Linked DNA regions of Homo sapiens: region 1 is linked to region 2. The links come from fine-mapping of genetic effects on gene expression. A gene starts in region 2. The other region holds a variant in brackets. All regions are shown on one strand. Distances are from middle to middle. Region 1 holds the start of CYP1B1-AS1 (CYP1B1 antisense RNA 1). Region 2 holds the start of CYP1B1 (cytochrome P450 family 1 subfamily B member 1).

Region 1 (8,329 bases), 51 kb after region 2:
GAAGAAACAAATTCACTAACTTATATTTCTGCTTAAAGAAATGCATGGGCATTTTCTTCGCATGTGCAGTTTGTTTAAAAATTAGGCATTGAATGCTTTTTAAAAAATATCTAGATCTATTCTGGACATGCACATTCCAATTGATAGATAGATCAAAATGTCTGATTTTCTTACTGGTAACTTGGCACCAGTTGCCAGTGGCTTCATATGAACCTATCAGCTGCTGTGGGATGGCAGAGCAGTTAAGAGTCCAAGACTAGTCCACGCAGGCCTGCAGCTCCCACATTCTGATGCATCAAAGCCACAGCAAGTTCCTAAAACATAGGCTCTGGATCCAGATGCTTTTGGTTCAAATTTTCACTTCATTATTTCTCAGATGTGTGACTTATGGCAATTACTTACTTCTCTAAGGCTCACTTTCCACATCTGTAAAATAGGGCTAATGATAGTATTTGCTTCATAAGATTGGGGATTGAATGGGATAATGCACTTAGCTCAATACTCACCCATAAACTTTTTTTTTTTTTTTTTTTTTTTTTTTGAGACAGAGTCTTGCTCTGTTGCCCAGGCTGGAGTGCAGTCGTGCGATCTTGGCTCACTGAAATCTCCACCTCCCAGGTTCAAGCAATTCTCCTGCCTCGGCCTCCCATGTAGCTGGGATTTCAGGCACACACCAACACCCCCGACTAATTTTTTTGAATTTTTAGTAGAGACAGGATTTTACCATGTTAGTCAGGCTGGTCTCAAACTCCTGGCCTCAAGTAATCCGCCCACCTTGGCCTCCCAAAGGGCTGGGATTACAGGCGTGAGCCACCACTCCCAGCCAACAATATTCAATTACATACTCAATTACTATGTTCTTTTTCTGGTAACTAGAATGTAGGATCTTATGATTGGCCCCAAGTTCAAAGATATGGGCAAGTAAGTATAATATAAGAGTGTAGATACAGATTTTGTAGGATATATGCCATGGCCTCTGTCCCATATCAGTTTAATACCTATTTTCCAATGTAATGCCCTGAAATCCCAGAAGAGGAAAAAAGAATTTTTTTCTAACAATTAGAAACATGATAAAAAAAACTATCAAAGGTATATTCATTCAGCCATGCAAATTGTAAAACCATAGCAATCATTCTATTTGTTTGGTCACAGTTTAAAAAAGGAAATTTGCTATAAGAAAAATAAATACAAACAAACACAAAAAGAGTTGAATGCCACCTGCAGAAGAAGCACCAATCCAACTATTTTACCCTGCCCACATTCACCATGTTTCTCACAATTGCCTATAAAAAGTAGTCACCATTTATTGTACCAGGCAGTGAGCTAAGTGCTTTATGGACCCTGTCTCGTTTAACTGTCCCCAGAGTCCTATGAGTAGGTATGTTAGTGCCATGCCCATATCACGGATAAGGAGATATGCCAGGTCAGAGAGGCGAGTTGGGATTCACACGCAGCAGACTTGCTCCAGGGCCTGTGTTCTCAACACTGCATGGTGCCGCTTCTGATCTGGATTGTTAAATCTCAGCACCCAGCACTCCTGGCTTGGGTAGAAGGGAATGGGCCCAGAGGTGCTGAGAATGGATCTCATGTACACCTAGGGTCGAAGTTGGAACAGAGAGTATGTGGAGAGCCTGGGCTAAGACTGAAGCCGCCATGATGAAAACCAAACTCAAGCAGTCTTGTTTTTTAAAACCAATGGGAGTAGTAAAGTATAAATGTAAATCTCAGTTATCTTATCATGCCACCCTATAGGTGTTTCCAGTAGTTACTTTAGAGCTATCAAAGATACATCTGAAATAACGGTACTGTGTATATACTTGAGTCCTCTTCCCCAGCTTGACACTCCTAGGAGTCAGGTGTTCTCTGGGCCAGATCATTTGCCCACAAACATAGCAATATGCCTAGCCTTCTCATTATATAAGGTCCCCCATTATATGGGGGACCTTATATAATTTCATCATATGGATGAAAAATGGGATTATTTTATTATTTGACTCTTCTCTCTAGGATTCAAAGTGCTTTTATTTATAGATTTTCATGATTTAACCAATTCACCCAAGAAGTAGGAAGAGGGCAGCTTTATTATTTTCAAATTGTGGACTGAGAAACTGAGATATGCAGAAAGAAATAAAGCTGCTCTGCAATTTGGAAAACCATCTGTGATGCTATAAAAACGTCTCACTGTACTCTCAACCACATAAATCACTATTTTTATTGCCTTCTCTCTGGATGAGATGTGGCTTAATTTGAGAGAGCTGTTTATCATTTGGCAAGCTGAAAGAACCTAATTTCAAGTCTCCATTCTAGTGGGTGGTAAGAATAAAGGGAATTTGCTTTAAGGGAAGAGGAAATGATAAGAATGGGAAGGAAACGGTTAGACCTAAAAAAAATCGATTTTGAAACCCTTTGGATTATCATGGATTTAATTTGCCAAGCATGGGTGAGGGGTCACATGGAATGGGTTTGAATTCTAAGCCACCATTATGACCACTCACTTAATGTTTCTTCCTACCACTCCCATTCTACAGTGAGCCCATGATTAAGATAACAACAGCTTAAATGAGTTAGTGCATAGTATGGTTTGGCTCTGGGTCCCCACCCAAATCCCGTGTTAAATTGTAATCTTGAGTGTTGGACGTGGGGCTTGGTGAGAGGTGATTTGATCATGAGGGTGATTTCTAATGGTTTAGCACCATCCCCACAGTGCTGCCTTATGATAGAGTTCTCAGGCGATCTGGTTGTTTGAAAGCATGTAGCACTTCCGCTGCCCTTCTCCTGCTGGCCATGTGAAGGTGTGCCTGTTTCTCCTTTACCTTCTGCCATGATTGTAAGTTTCCTGAGGCCTCCCCAAAAGCAGAAGCCTTTACAGCCCACAGAACTGTGAGCTGATTAAACATCTTTCTTTATAAATTACCCAGTCTCAGGTAGTTTTTATAGCAATGCAAGAACAGACTAATGAAGAAAATTGGTACCAGAGAAGTGAGGCATTACTACAAAGATACCTGAAAATGTGGAAGCAGCTTTGGAACTGGATAATGGGCAGAGGGTGGAACAGTTTGGAAAGCTCAGAAGAAGACAGGAAGATGAGGAAATGTTTGGAATTTCCTAGAGACTTGTTTAATGGTTTTGACCAAAATGCTCATAGTGATATGGGCAGAGATGGCCAGGCTGATGAGGTCTCAGATGGAGATGAGGAACTTATTGAGAACTGGAGTAAAGGTCACTCTTGCTATGCTTTAGCAAAGAGACTGGTGGCATTGTGCTCCTGCTCTAGGGATCTGTTGAACTTTGACCTTGAGAGATGATTTAGGGTATCTGGCAGAAGAAATTTCTAAGCATCAAAGTGCTCAAGATGTGGCCTGGCTGCTTCCAAAAGCCTAACTCATCTGCATAAACAAAGAAATGACCTGAAAAGGGAGGCAAAGCATAAAAGATAGATAGGAAAATTTGCAGCCTAGCCATGTGGTAGAAAAGAAAAACCCATTTTCTGGGGAGAAATTCAAGCCCAATACAGAAATTTGCATAAGTAAAGAGGAGCCAAATATTAGCAGTCAAGACAATGGGGAAAATGCCTATGAGGCATTCCAGAGACCTTTGGGGCAGCCCCTCCCATCACAGGCCTGGAGGCCTAGGAGGGAAAAATGGTTTCATGGGGCCAGGCCCAGGGCCCTGCTGCTTTGTGCAGCCTTGGGGCATGGCACCCTGCATCCCACTTGCTCCAGCTACAGCTGTGGCCAAAAGGGCCCCAGATACTTCTCAGACTGCTGCTCCAGAGAGTGCAAGCCACAAGCCTTGGTGGCTTCCATGTGGTGTTAAGCCTGCAAGTACAAAGAGGATGAGAGTTGAGGCTTGGGAACCTCCACCTAGATTTCAGAGGATGTATGGAAAGGCCTGGATGTCCAGGCGGGAGTCTCCTGCAGGGGCAGAGCCTTCATGGAGAATATCTAGTAGGGCAGTGCAAAGGGGAAATGTGGGGTTGGAGCCCCCACACAGAGTCCCCACTGGGGCACTGCCTAGTGGAGCTCTGAAAAGAAGGTCATCCTCCTCCAGACCCCAGCTTGCACTGTGTACCTGGAAAATCCACAGGCACTCACATCAGTCCATGAAAGCAGCCACAGGGGATGTACCCTGCAGAGCTGCCCAAGGCCTTGGAAGCCCACCCCCTCCATCAGCATGGCCTGGATGTGAGACACAGAGTCAAGATTATTTTGGAGCTTTAAGATTTAATGACCGTCCTGCTGGGTTTCGGACTTGCATGGGGCCTGTAGCCCCTGTGTTGTGGCTGAGTTCTCCTTTCTGGAAATGGAGTATTTACCCAATGCCTGTACTCCCATTGTATCTTGGAAGTAGCTAACTTGTTTTTGATTTTACAGGCTCATAGGTGGAAGGGACTTGCCTTGTCTCCGATTAGACTTTGGACTTGGACTTTTGAGTTAATTCTGGAATGAGTTAAGACTTTGGGGGACTGTTGAGAAGGGATGGTTATATTTTACAATGTGAGAGGATATGAGATTTGGGAGGGGCCAAGGGTGGAATGGTATGGTGGGGCTTTGTGTCCCTACCCAAATCTCATGTTGAACTGTGATCCCGAGTGCTGGAGGGAGGGTTTGGTGGGAGGTGATTGGATCACAGGGGTGGTTTTTAATGGTTTAGCGCCATTCCCCCAATTTCTTAGGAAATCTGCTTGTTTGAAAGTGTGTAGCATCTCCTTTGCCCCTCTCCTGCTGCTAATGGCCTGTTTCCCCTTCACCTTGTGCCACGATTGTAAGTTTCCTGAGGCCTCCCCCAGAAGCAGAAGCCTGTACAGCCCACAGGAACCATGAGCTGACTAACCATCTTTTCTTTATAAATTACCCAGTTCTTTATGGCAACGTAAGAATGGACCAATAGAGCACATCACTAGGGTAGCACAAAGGAGAGGGCCCAGAAGCAGAGGAGAGATAAACAGCTCATTTTTTTCATCTTTCTCAATGTTTCTTGCTCACTCTCTGTTGTTTGCATCCATTTTTCATTTCATCCCATTTCCTCTTTTTTCCCTTTCATTTCCTCATTTTGGGACAGCAAGA[G/C]GTCATGTTCTTGCTGCCAACAGTTACGACATTTTCAGTAGTCATGACAGCCACAAAGCCAGGGCTGGACTTGTCCAGAAGTCTGATCTGCAGCAGGAGGGAGTCTGTAGTGTGCAGGGGCTCTCCAGCTGTCACTTAGATCCCAAGCTGCCCCTTCACTTTTAATTTTGCTGATGGTGGCTTTTGTCAAAGGCAATTTAAAATTTAGGGCTAGGTAGTCTAATCTGTCAATCTTTTCTTTTCTTTGTGGTTTCCAGGTTTGTGTCTTACTTAGGAGGGCCTTCCCAATGCTAAAATTATATATATAAACAGATATACCACAATTGCCTAAACAGAAATTTGGGCAAGCTGGCACATTTGAAACAGGGCTGTCTCCTAAAATTTGGAACGTGTGGATAGCGTGCATATGCTTGGACTCTAGGACTTACTTTCTCTGGAAAAATCCGTCTAGCTTCCTCACTCACTGCCTCTGCCTCCCAGCTCCAGCCTAGCCATTTCATCTTATGGTGGGGGAGCACTCAGTTGCTAGGGCCAGAAACCCACTCAGAGTAACTTAAGTAAATGGGGATTACTTGCACAGTGATAACGGAATACTGTGAAACCCAGTTTGAAGAATTGCACCTGGATCACTGAAGGGCTAGAGTCTGGAGCTGCCCTTCCTCCTCCCTTTCTCTCAGTTATCTTTGTCTCTGCTCCATCCTCCCCCTTCGTCAAGCATACTCTGTTACCACATGACCTTAAATGACTGTCTAACTCAGTCCTTGAGCCCACAGAATCTTGTGAGTCTAGCACTCACAGATAAAAAAACACCCTCAGGCTTTCTGTGTCCCAACTCCAAGTTCTAGATAAAGATGTCTGATTGGTTAAAGTGGGTCATGTTTAAAGTGGGTCTACTCCCAATTCAGTTATTGGTGGCCAGGGCCATGAGCCACATGGTTGCCCCTTGGGGCAGTGGGCAAGGTAAAGTTCACAAGATGTGGTGGGGAGGAAATGACCACTGTAACTCTGTGGTCCAGTTCCCACACCCATATTGTGATTTTTGCTCCCCTTCAAGTTTGCCCTTGATGTTGTCTGTAACTGAATTCTGTTTTCTCCCATGGTTAGATTTATACCAGATCCAGGACCTTTTAGGGAGGGCTGTGGTCCTGTCCCCTTGGGGAGGCTCTGATCTAAGACTGCTCCCTCATGGAAATTAAGGAGAAGGGGAAAGCCTAGGCTACAGATGGAGAAGGATGAGTCATTCCAGCAGCCATGGCCAAGGGAACTCCTGGAGACGTAGGGACTGTTTATGTGGCCACTCACCATCATGCAGGCCCCCAATGGGGGTGAGGCAAGGAAGGACATAGAAAGACTGCTCAAGTGCATTTCTGGTTTTGCTTCCTACCGCAAACGACTCTTGTCATATGACTGGGGGAGTGTGGTGGTGGCAATAAGCAGAAAAATTTGAGTCTAAGAGTTGCTTTCTGAATTCTATTAGGGTCAATGTAGTCTAAAGAAGTTGACTTTTGAGGAAATAAATCTTTTCTGTTTTCTGCAGCCAGACTAAGGATTTAGTGGTGAATGGTAGGTGGGAACATAGTGGGACTCTGACTGCTCATACGGCCTCTGTGAGGCTCAATTCTTTTATCTCTAAAAGAGAGAACTGTCTACCTGGTAAGAGAAGATCTTTTGGGAGCCCACTAAACTCTAACATAATGTTATTATACAGTAAGTTCTCACTTAATGTCATCGACAGTTTCTTGGAAACTATAGCTTTAAGCAAAATGACATGTAACAAAAGCGTTTTTTTCTCATCAACGTTATAACAAAACGTTAAAGGAAGTGACATTATTTATGAACCTGCTGCATGTTGTTTTGCTTAAAGTTACAGATTCCAAGAACCTATCGATGACATTAAGTGAGGACTTACTGTACTAGTATCATTTATAACTTATAAAAATGACTTAATTAATATACCACAAAATATGCAGCTTTCATGTTAGAGACCAGATAAATATGAATATTTTGTTAAAATGTCTCTCTTCTCTACTTTACCAGTCTTCACCAACCTCCTCCCTCCAGAATATTCCTCAAGAATATAAAATGCCTCATCAACATGAGACAACAGCAGGAAGCACCCATTCGTAGTAATCCTCTGTATGGAGGAGGCTGTTACATAACCACAAAGGCACAAAGCTGCAGTTTTGAGAACATCTTCCCACGCCAGTTCTAAGCATTGACTTCAACTATGGTTGCTAACACAAGAATCGGCACTGGTGACTTTTGAGCCATCAATCATCCTTTCCTAACACATGAATCTTTTGGAAAAGTATGTGAGATTGGAGATTACCTGTGATGGTTTGGATTTAGATTTTGCCTCCAGGTTTAGGCAATGGTAAATAGGCAGGAGTTTAATAGGAACTAAGGTTATTTGATAATTCCTGGGCCACTGCAAATAGAAAGTGTTGGCAATTTTGTCTTTTGGGCTGCCTCTGATTGAAGGCACAGGCCTGTTTCATGAAGTTCTGAAACATGAACCGGCTGTATCTGCGTCAAAGTCAGTGGTAACCAGGTTAATAGCACTGACAACCATGTTCTTTTTACAGGAAACACAAACGTGAATCACTTGTTCTTACTTTTCTTTTACAGTGGTCTCAAATAGTCAAGACCCCCTGCTGGGAGGAGCTTCTATCCTGCTCTGTGGAAGAAATGGGCATGCCAGATGCCTGGAAGATCAGAGGCTCACATTCCAGGTGGGTCACCCTGGTTCTTCTCATCAGAATCAACTAGAGAGATGGGCTCCCTCTCCATCCCTACCCACGGGCATTGGTCAGGCTGAAAGCAAAGAAAGACAATCCATTGCCCCCAGGAGAACTGGTCTTACTCTAAATCAGTGGCCTGCAAACTGTTTATGTGGATGTCCGGATAGTACATTTTTTGCCTGTGTGGGCCTTCCAGTCTGTCTTAGTTACTCAACTCTGTGATTTTTGAGCAACCATTAGACAGTATGTAAATGAATGAGCATGGCCCCATCTGGCCCTCCACCCACAGGCCATAGTTTGCTGACTCCTGCAAGAGTAAAACCCTTTATGAACTAGAGAGTTCCAGGCTTGAACATGGGTCCAGAAAATATGGGAAGGCAAACCTCACACATTTGTGGTTGTGTGCCTCCTAAGTGCTTTGTGTCACTGTTGGCTTCCAATTCCTAGGAAGGGCCTTGGGCACCAACCGTATGTTGACCCAGGGAGAAAAGGACTTTTGGGAGTGAGAGTCAGAGAATGGGT
Region 2 (8,267 bases):
ATTGTTTGCAACTCCGAAAAAAAATGTATACACGTATGTGATGAAGTGGAGTTATTTTTAGAATCGCTTCTTCAACATTATATTGCAGGAGTCTGCCAACTTTTTTCATAGAAACATGTATGGTGGGGAGAGCCAGAGAGTATCTATTTTAGACTTTGTGGACCAAACCCTCTTTGTTGCACTACTCTGCTCTGCCTTGTGTTGTAGAGTGAACGCAGCCATCGACAATGTATAAATGAATGGGCATGACTGCGTCAATAAAACGTATATACAAAAACAGATCGTGTAATTTGCCAAGCCCTGTCATACGTCTTTTCACTAAAAAGGAAAAAAAAAGTATCAGCATATTGAATTGAAAGTGACCTCCAAATTGTTTTATTTCTTTTTGCCGCCTAATTGGAGTACTCGGAGAACTATTGTGGTTCTAATGAAAAACAAAGGCCGTTTCAAAAGTTAAAATGCCTATCTGCGGATGCACAAAAACCTATGGAACCTATTCCGGGATTTCCTTTTCCCTGATCTCTGGTTGACTTTTCTTTATTCGATTTCTGCCTCTCCCTCACCCACCATGGGTGTTTCTATGATTTTAATACTAAAAAGCCATTTTAAGTATACAGAAACTTTTAATTTGTGAAGGTAGCTGTACAGTATCTAAGGAAATATAGATTGCAGTGGATTTTAATAAGGAAAGAGTCATTCTCTGCCTTCCAAACACCTTTCTGTGGCGCCTGCAGATTCAGCATCTCCAACTGCTCACTTGTGCTCCAAGAAATGACACAAAACCAGGATTTCTGGTCTCTTCGGCAATCAAAATTTGCCTTGCGAAACATTTGCCCCTAGGGATAGTGTTTCCACAGTAAATACTACAGGCCGCCCAGTTAAATATGGATTTCAGATCAACAAGGGCTAATCTTTTAGTGTGAGTATTCCCGTGTAAAACTTACTTTTCTTTTGCCAAATCTGGCAACCCGACACCAGGGACCTGTTGAATCCGTGCTTAGTAGAGACCAACGTGGGCATCAGGGGGTCCGCTAACTGAGCCAAGCGCAGGGGCCAGAAACGTCTGCAGGCGCCTCCTGGATATCCCATCTGCCTTTCTGAATGCTACTCTGCTTTCGTAAAAGTGACTGCTTCTTGTCTTCTACCCCGGCATTTCTCAAACTCCTAGCGCGGAGGTTTTATAAACCTAGCGCTGCCCGCTAGTTGTGGCCGCCTTCTGAAAGTTTCTGTGCGGGTTACCTGTCGGCTGGCCCGGCCTCCATGGGCTTCCTTGGCCTGGAACAAAGCCCTGACGGGCGGCCCGCTTTTAGCGCCAGGGCTGGGCGGCCTCGGATGCACGCCGAGGACTAGCCTAGGAGAGGCTGCTGTGTTTAACATATTTATGACATTACCTTTTCTTTCGGAACTATTCCAGTTCTGATTGTAATGCGCCAGGGAGAGAGATATCAGGGCTCATCTCCAAGCATTTAAAAACTCTTGTTTTTCCGGGGGGTGGAGGGGTCTTTGCAAATGTGTTCTCACTCGCAAGCAGGGGAGGGGACGATAGAGACAAGATAGGAGACCGGAGGGGTCGGGGCACCGCTGGGTGGGGCGCGTGCGCGTGTCGCAGCCCTCACTGTGAGTCCCTTTACCGACGCGATCTTGGTTTTGAGGGGTGGGGACCTGGAGCGAAACCCCAAACCCGGGGCCCTGCTTGCAAACTCAGCATATTCTGTCTCTACTCCGCCTTTTTCAGAGGAGAAAAGACCTGGCCCACGCCTCCCAGAGGCTTTACCTGGTGAAGAGGAGGAGCAGCCACTGCAGCGCGGTGGACAGGGTGTCCTGGCTGGCGCCGAAGATGTCAGTGATAGTGGCCGGTACGTTCTCCAAATCCAGCCGCGCGCCACCACCGTGCGAGTCCCCGGCCGCCTTCTTTTCCGCAGAGAGGATAAAGGCGTCCATCATGTCGCGGGGGGCGGCCCCGGGCCGAAGGCTTTCGCAGTGCCTCAAGAACTTGTCCAGGATGAAGTTGCTGAAGTTGCGGTTGAGCTGCTCGAATTCGCGGAAAACGGTGCGCACCGGGTTGGGGAAGTACTGCAGCCAGGGCATCACGTCCACCAGGCTGCCCGCGCCCACCGTGCGCCCGAACTCTTCGTTGTGGCTGAGCAGCTCACGGAACTCGGGGTCGTCGTGGCTGTAGCGGCAGCCGAAACACACGGCACTCATGACGTTGGCCACGGCCACGACGGTCAGCGGCCTCGGGTCGAGGAAGGCGCCGTCCGCGCTGCCGCGCACCAGCAGCGCCACCAGCTCGCGCGCCTCGCTCAGCACGTGGCCCTCGAGGACTTGGCGGCTGCGCGGCTGGCGCGTGAAGAAGTTGCGCATCATGCTGTGGGCTGCGCGCCGCTGCACCTTCCAGTGCTCCGAGTAGTGGCCGAAAGCCATGCTGCGGCCGCCGGACACCACACGGAAGGAGGCGAAGGCCGGCCGGTCGGCGAAGGCCGAGCCCTGCTGCACCAGGGCCTGGTGGATGGCGCGCTCGCCATTCAGCACCACTATGGGGCAGCTGCCCAGGCGGATCTGGAAAACGTCGCCGTAGCGCCGCGCCAGGCGAGCGAACGAGAGGTGAGCCGCCTGGCCCACCGCCGCCGCGTTTCCGATCAGTGGCCACGCAAACGGGCCCGGGGGCGCGGACCGGAGCTGCCGCCTCCGTTGCCTCAGCAGCCGCTGGCCCACATGCACAGTGGCCAGCACCGACAGGAGTAGCAGGAGCGTGGTCTGCTGGATGGACAGCGGGTTTAGCGGCCAAGGGTCGTTCGGGCTGAGGCTGGTGCCCATGCTGGGGACAGAGAGGAGAAGGCGTGACACTCAGGGGTGCAGAGACAGGAGCGGGCGCCCCACGCCCCTACCCCAGCCTCTGGGGACTGAGTGCCGTTGGGTGGAGAGGTCGGAGCTGACTCTCTGGAGAAATGGCCGAAGACGCCCCTTCCCATCCCCAACCCACTCTCCCTTGGAGAAGAGAAGGGGCGTGTTTCCACCTCGCTGTAACCCAGCGCCAAACCCTTCCCCTCCCCGCAAGGCGCGTAACGGTTCCTGCAATCTGGGGACAACGCTGCGGGCATCGAGGCGGTGGCGCTTGATTTCCTTTAAAGTACCTACCACGCCACCCGCTACCTGTAATAATCCATCTGAAGAGGTCGCCGGGCAGCGCCTCGGCAGACAGACTGACCTGCGGGGAGGTGCGGTTTCCAGTGGCGCGGGACAGCCGGCTCCGAGAAGGAACTGGGACCTTTGCCTAGGGCAAGACGTCAACAGGAACCCGCAGGCCCGGCCTGGACACCTGCTGCCCTCACTGGAAGCTTTAACTCCCACTCGAGTCTCTTGGCGTCGTCAGTGCCAGGAGCGCTTGGATTGGGATGGGGACGGAGAAGGGTGCCTCGCTCGCCGAGCCCCGCTGCCCTTGGGGACCTGGCAAAGTCGAGGTTTCCTCACAGCGTTGAGATTGAGACTGGGGGTCGGTGAGTGGCGTCAATTCCCATGCCCTTGCGGCTCTCACAACTGGAGTCGCAGAAGCGCTCGCTCCCACTCCCACTCCAGAGTCAAAGCGCGCCATCCCGCTCCTCCGGGTTTTAAGGACTGGGTAGAAGGAGGGCAGCGCGACCTGGCAGGGCGGGGCCTGCGGGGGGCGGGGCGCGCCGCACACCAGGCCGCTTTGACCCGGACTCCCGTCCAGGCGCACCGGCCGGCCTCGGAGCTCTACCAGCAGGCTTTCATGGGAGCGGAGGTGCCCACGTTTCCATTGTGCGGTAACCGCGCTTCATCACAGCCACCTCCAATCGAGGCCGCACGGTGTCCCCAGAACCACGCTCGGTACAACCTGCCCCGGCCGCTGCGCTCGACTTGGGAGCGCGCCCCGCCCCGAGCGCACGACCTCCCTTCCCTCTCCGCGACTTGAGCTTGCTTCCCGGAAAGCCAGTGTAGTGGCAGCGGTTTGCCTCACAGCGCCCCTGGTTGGTTGTTTAAATTTTATCTTAGGTTCTCGCAAACAAATTGCCACCTCAGTGGAGGCTCTTTGGCATGCTAAATTTTTTCCAGTTCTTGCGGCGAGATCAGGAATCCCTAAAAGTAGCCGCTCCCCCGCCCCGGGGCCCCGACAGTGCTTGGGCACACAAAGGCTCCTGGGGCGCAGCTGGCCCTGAGATTTCCCGCGTAGAGGCCACTCCAGGTGGCGCCGCCCGCTGGTGGGCGCGGGGCCGCCCAGGCTGCGATGGAAGCCGTTGGCGCAGGGCGGGGAGCCAAGCTGGGGCGACTGGGGGGGCCTGGGGGAGCTAGCGGGGCGGGACCCGAGCGGGGCGGAGAGTGGCAGGAGGAGGCGAATCTCCGCGCTCCGGCGAACTTTATCGGGTTGAAGTTTCTGCTGTCGCCTCCCCTTTGCGTGCGGAGCTGGGCTTTGCGTGCGCCGCTTCTGGAAAGTCGGCTCCAGTCATATCCCTGGGCGCTGCCTGCGGCCGCTCCTCCCGCGCTTCTCACGGCACCTGACACGCGGAGGCGGCGGCCGAGGGTGGGGTGCCGGCCACCACCACCCTTGGCGTGGGGTGCCGGCCGCCACCACCCTCGGCTGCGCACGCACAGTCGCGCCTGCCAGGCCAGCGAGGCGGACGCTTGGGCCACCACCCGCAGGCCGAGCCCGGGCGCGTATCGCCACCTCGCTGCGCACCGGCGGCTCTGTGGTCTTCCTGGGCGCGCTTGCGGTCGCGAAGGGGGCCCTCCCTTTATAAGGGAAGCCGGAGGCGCTTGGGCGGGGGTGGCTTCCCCCGCCTGGCGCGCCCTTTCCTACATGCTGATGCATAGGATTTTCAAGACAGCTAAGAGAACAAGGACTTCACGAGGCGGGGGGAAGGGCGAACTCGAGGGAAGAGGTGGGATGTATCTGGTTAACCAGGTAGGAATTGTACTGGCTTCATCAAAGGATAAATATAAAAGTGATAGGTTCACCAGGGACAACCCTGCACTTTGAGCTCCACTCGCGCTGCGAATCTCGTGCTATTATTGACCTGTTTACAGATGAATAAACTAGGGTTCAGAGAGGTTGCGTGACTTAACCCAGGTCGCGCAGCCATCAAGAAGTGGAGCCAGGGCTTGAAGCCACCAAGTCCCACTCCAGATCCTTCACATAAGTTTACACGGAAGAAAATTGCAGATAAGAGGCCCAAATGCCTTCTTTCCTGCCTCCCTTAAAAAAAAAAATGCACGTGGGGCTAGGCGCAGTGGCTCACGCCTGTAATCCCAGCACTTTGGGAGGCTTAAGCGGGCGGATCACTTGAGGTCAGGAGTTCGAGACCAGCCTGGCCAACATGGCGAAACCCCATCTACTAAAAATACAAAAGTTAGCCGGACGTGGTGGTGCACACCTGTAATCCCAGCTACTCGGGGATCAGGGGGGAAGGCAGCAGAATTGGTTGAACGTGGGAGGCAGAGGTTGCAGTGAGCAGAGATTGCACCACTGCACTACAGCCTGGGCAGCAGAGTTTAAGTGAGACTCTGTCTCAAAAAAAAAAAAAAAAAAAAAATCAGCTGGAAGAACTTTTTAATTATTGTTTTTGTTTTCATAATTGAGAATTCTGAGAATAGCAGAGAAGAAATAGTATGCTAACCCTTTGCAATTAAATTGCTTATGAGGGAGGCCAGGGGAGTGTGCCTCATAGCTGACCCTGGAATGACTGATTACATTGTAAAGAAACACAAAGGAGTGTCTGAAAAGAATCTGACTTCTTGAGAGATTGAAACCAGCAATCAATTTGCTGACCTGATAAAGAAATGTCTTTTCGTGATGGCTTTTTTTATTTTTATTTTTATTTATTTATTTTTTTTGAGATGGAGTCTCACTCTGTCACCTGGGCTGCAGTGCAATGGCGTGATCTCGGCTCACTGCAACCTCCGCCTGCCAGGTTCTCCTGGCTCAGCCTCCCAAGTAGCTGGGATTACAGGTGCGCACCACCACACCCGGCTAATTTTTGTATTTTTCTAGTAGAGATGGGGTTTCACCATGCTGGCCAGGCTGGTCTCAAACTCCTGACCTCAGGTGATCCACCAGCCTGGGCCTCCCAAAGTGCTGGGATTACAGGCATGAGCCACCGTGCCCGGCCTGTGATGCCTTTTATTCGGTATCTTTTGAAGAGTTTTCTGGAAATGATTTCACACACCATGATGGGGAACTTAGATAGTGATGGAGTTTTAGTTTTTGAGCAGTTGCATTGGTTTAATAATAAGCGTTGGTTTCCCAGAGGTGAGTTGGCCTACACAGCCTTTGAAATGAGTTTCATAGCAACCTTCCCATGTCCAGCTTTAGCAAGATCCTTGCCTAATAATTCAAGACTCTGGTGCATGCATCAATCTCTCATAGACTTTAATTTAGTAGACGGGAATTATCTATGAGCTAATGCCAATCCTGAGCTGTTGACATTCCTGAAAGCCTTTATCACAATACCTCTGCCAGAATGAGAGCAGATGGAAGTTGCCTTTAAGTAAATTCCTATTTTTAAAAAGTATAAAACGAGGTTGTTCCTAAGACCGCCTGTCCAACTCCTCAATAATGCCATCTAGTTTTTAGATCAACTAGATGCATGCTTTCCTGCCATCGCAGATAGATCAGATATATCCTCCAAGCTGTAGTTCCTTGGGCTCAGCTCTTTTTCTAGGACATGACTCAAAAATCAGAGGAACTAGGTTGGTAAGTGCTGTCAGAAAGATAAGCCCTTATCGGTTATGGCAAACCAAAATGACTGGCTATGGTAACACTTTTTGCAGAGAATCTTCAAGCCTGGAGTTCTTAGGGCTTTATGGTGCAAACTTCATTGAATGCCCCATCCGGTACCCTGATAAGGACTTCGGATAAATCCAGAGCAGCCTGTTGGCACCCCGACCCAACTCAAGGCAGAGCCCTGCCTCTAGTGAGAATCTACGCAGGCTCTTTAATTATCATCACAACTTCTCAACCAAAGCAGGGACCTAAGGCCCAGGAATCTCCTTTCAATCAACACAGAATATGGGCATTCTGCCCTCCCAAATCTCAAACTTGAATTGTTTGTTGCAAATAACTTTCAAAAAGAACAGCTAAGCTAGAGGGATAGTTTAAAGTAGAGAGAGGTTTAAAATATCTTATCTTGTATTGACTCGAAGGAACAACTTAAGCTTGTTTAAGCAGAACAGGAATGCACTGGCCCATGTGCAGAGAAGGATAACCGTGATGCTTCACAGGATACAAGGACCCAGGCCGCTCTACCGGCTCTCTGCCTATGCTGGTCTTTGCTTGGGCTTTCTCTCTTTGCATGGCAAGGAAGCAGCTTAAAATTAACAAAACAAAGAGAAAGAGAACAGCTCTCTTCCAGGGTCCTAGAAGGACTCCAGGGGGCCAGGCTGGCATCAGGTTTTTACCCTGTGGGCAAGGGCTTGTTCTGTCATCAGAAAAAAAGAGATGGCAGAACATGCTAGGAAGCCAAAGAGCTGACCCAGTCCACTCCATGTATACATGTCTGCCCACTGGTTTCTTTGGGTTGGAGGATAACCTAAGGAAACCCAAAGCCATTATTGTTATTATTATTTTAAATCAGCAGATATATGCATTGCCCTTAGAGCCAGTAGCCCAGAAAGCTCTGCCCTTCTGCTGTCAGGCTGGAACTCAGTTTTCTTCATGGTCTTCCTCTCTAGTGTGACCCCTAAGTCAGTTTAATGGGTAGCCACTGTGCTTTTCCAGTCATCTCCAAACACACATACCCACATGCACTGAGGAGAGTGGAGGAGAATAAGCCATCTCTGGTAGGCTCTTGACATTTGGGTGGGCAGGATTCAGTCATCAGGCACATGCTGGTAGGCAAGAGGAGCAGAAATAAGGAGACACACCAAGTGGCTGAGGGTGCGATAGAGGGAGGAACTGTAGGATAATGCACACCAGGGGCTGGACCATGAAAGGAATCTTAGGAATTGATACCAAAACCCTGTGCCTCACCTGAAATGCTCCACTTCCTTCCTCCTGGCAATACACAGGCAGAGAACCACAGAGCTAATAGAAAGGTATTTTATCTAATCTCAGAAGCCATCATTTGTAGGATGCACCCTTATTTTTATGTACTAACATAAAGAAAGGAAGCTACCAATTATAATTGCATCATCGACTCTAAGATACATCCAGATTTCGGAGATGTAAAATGGAAAGTTGAGGGTATGATTTGGAGCTGACAAAGCATTATACATTTCATGCGCGTCCGTGTGAAGAGACCACCAAACAGGCT

Evidence for each region. PIP is the estimated chance that this variant, and not a neighbour inherited with it, causes the effect.
Region 1: its variant is fine-mapped to the expression of CYP1B1 in whole blood (TOPMed, PIP 0.99).

Annotation. Positions count from the first base shown.
Region 1 is chr2:38,123,817-38,132,145 of GRCh38, forward strand. CYP1B1-AS1 (CYP1B1 antisense RNA 1) reads left to right here and starts at 7,289. Exons shown (of 3, transcript NR_027252.1): 1 at 7,289-7,374; 2 at 7,695-7,798. All of the region lies in intron 2 of LOC107985871 (a long non-coding RNA gene), which reads right to left. The variant G/C (reference allele first, on the strand shown) is at 5,067.
Region 2 is chr2:38,072,572-38,080,838 of GRCh38, forward strand. CYP1B1 (cytochrome P450 family 1 subfamily B member 1) reads right to left here and starts at 3,580. Exons shown (of 3, transcript NM_000104.4): 1 at 3,209-3,580; 2 at 1,775-2,818. The coding sequence starts at 2,817. RefSeq lists a promoter at 3,561-4,936, cis regulatory regions at 3,575-3,582, 4,503-4,532, silencers at 3,576-3,665, 4,576-4,695 and an enhancer at 4,403-4,601.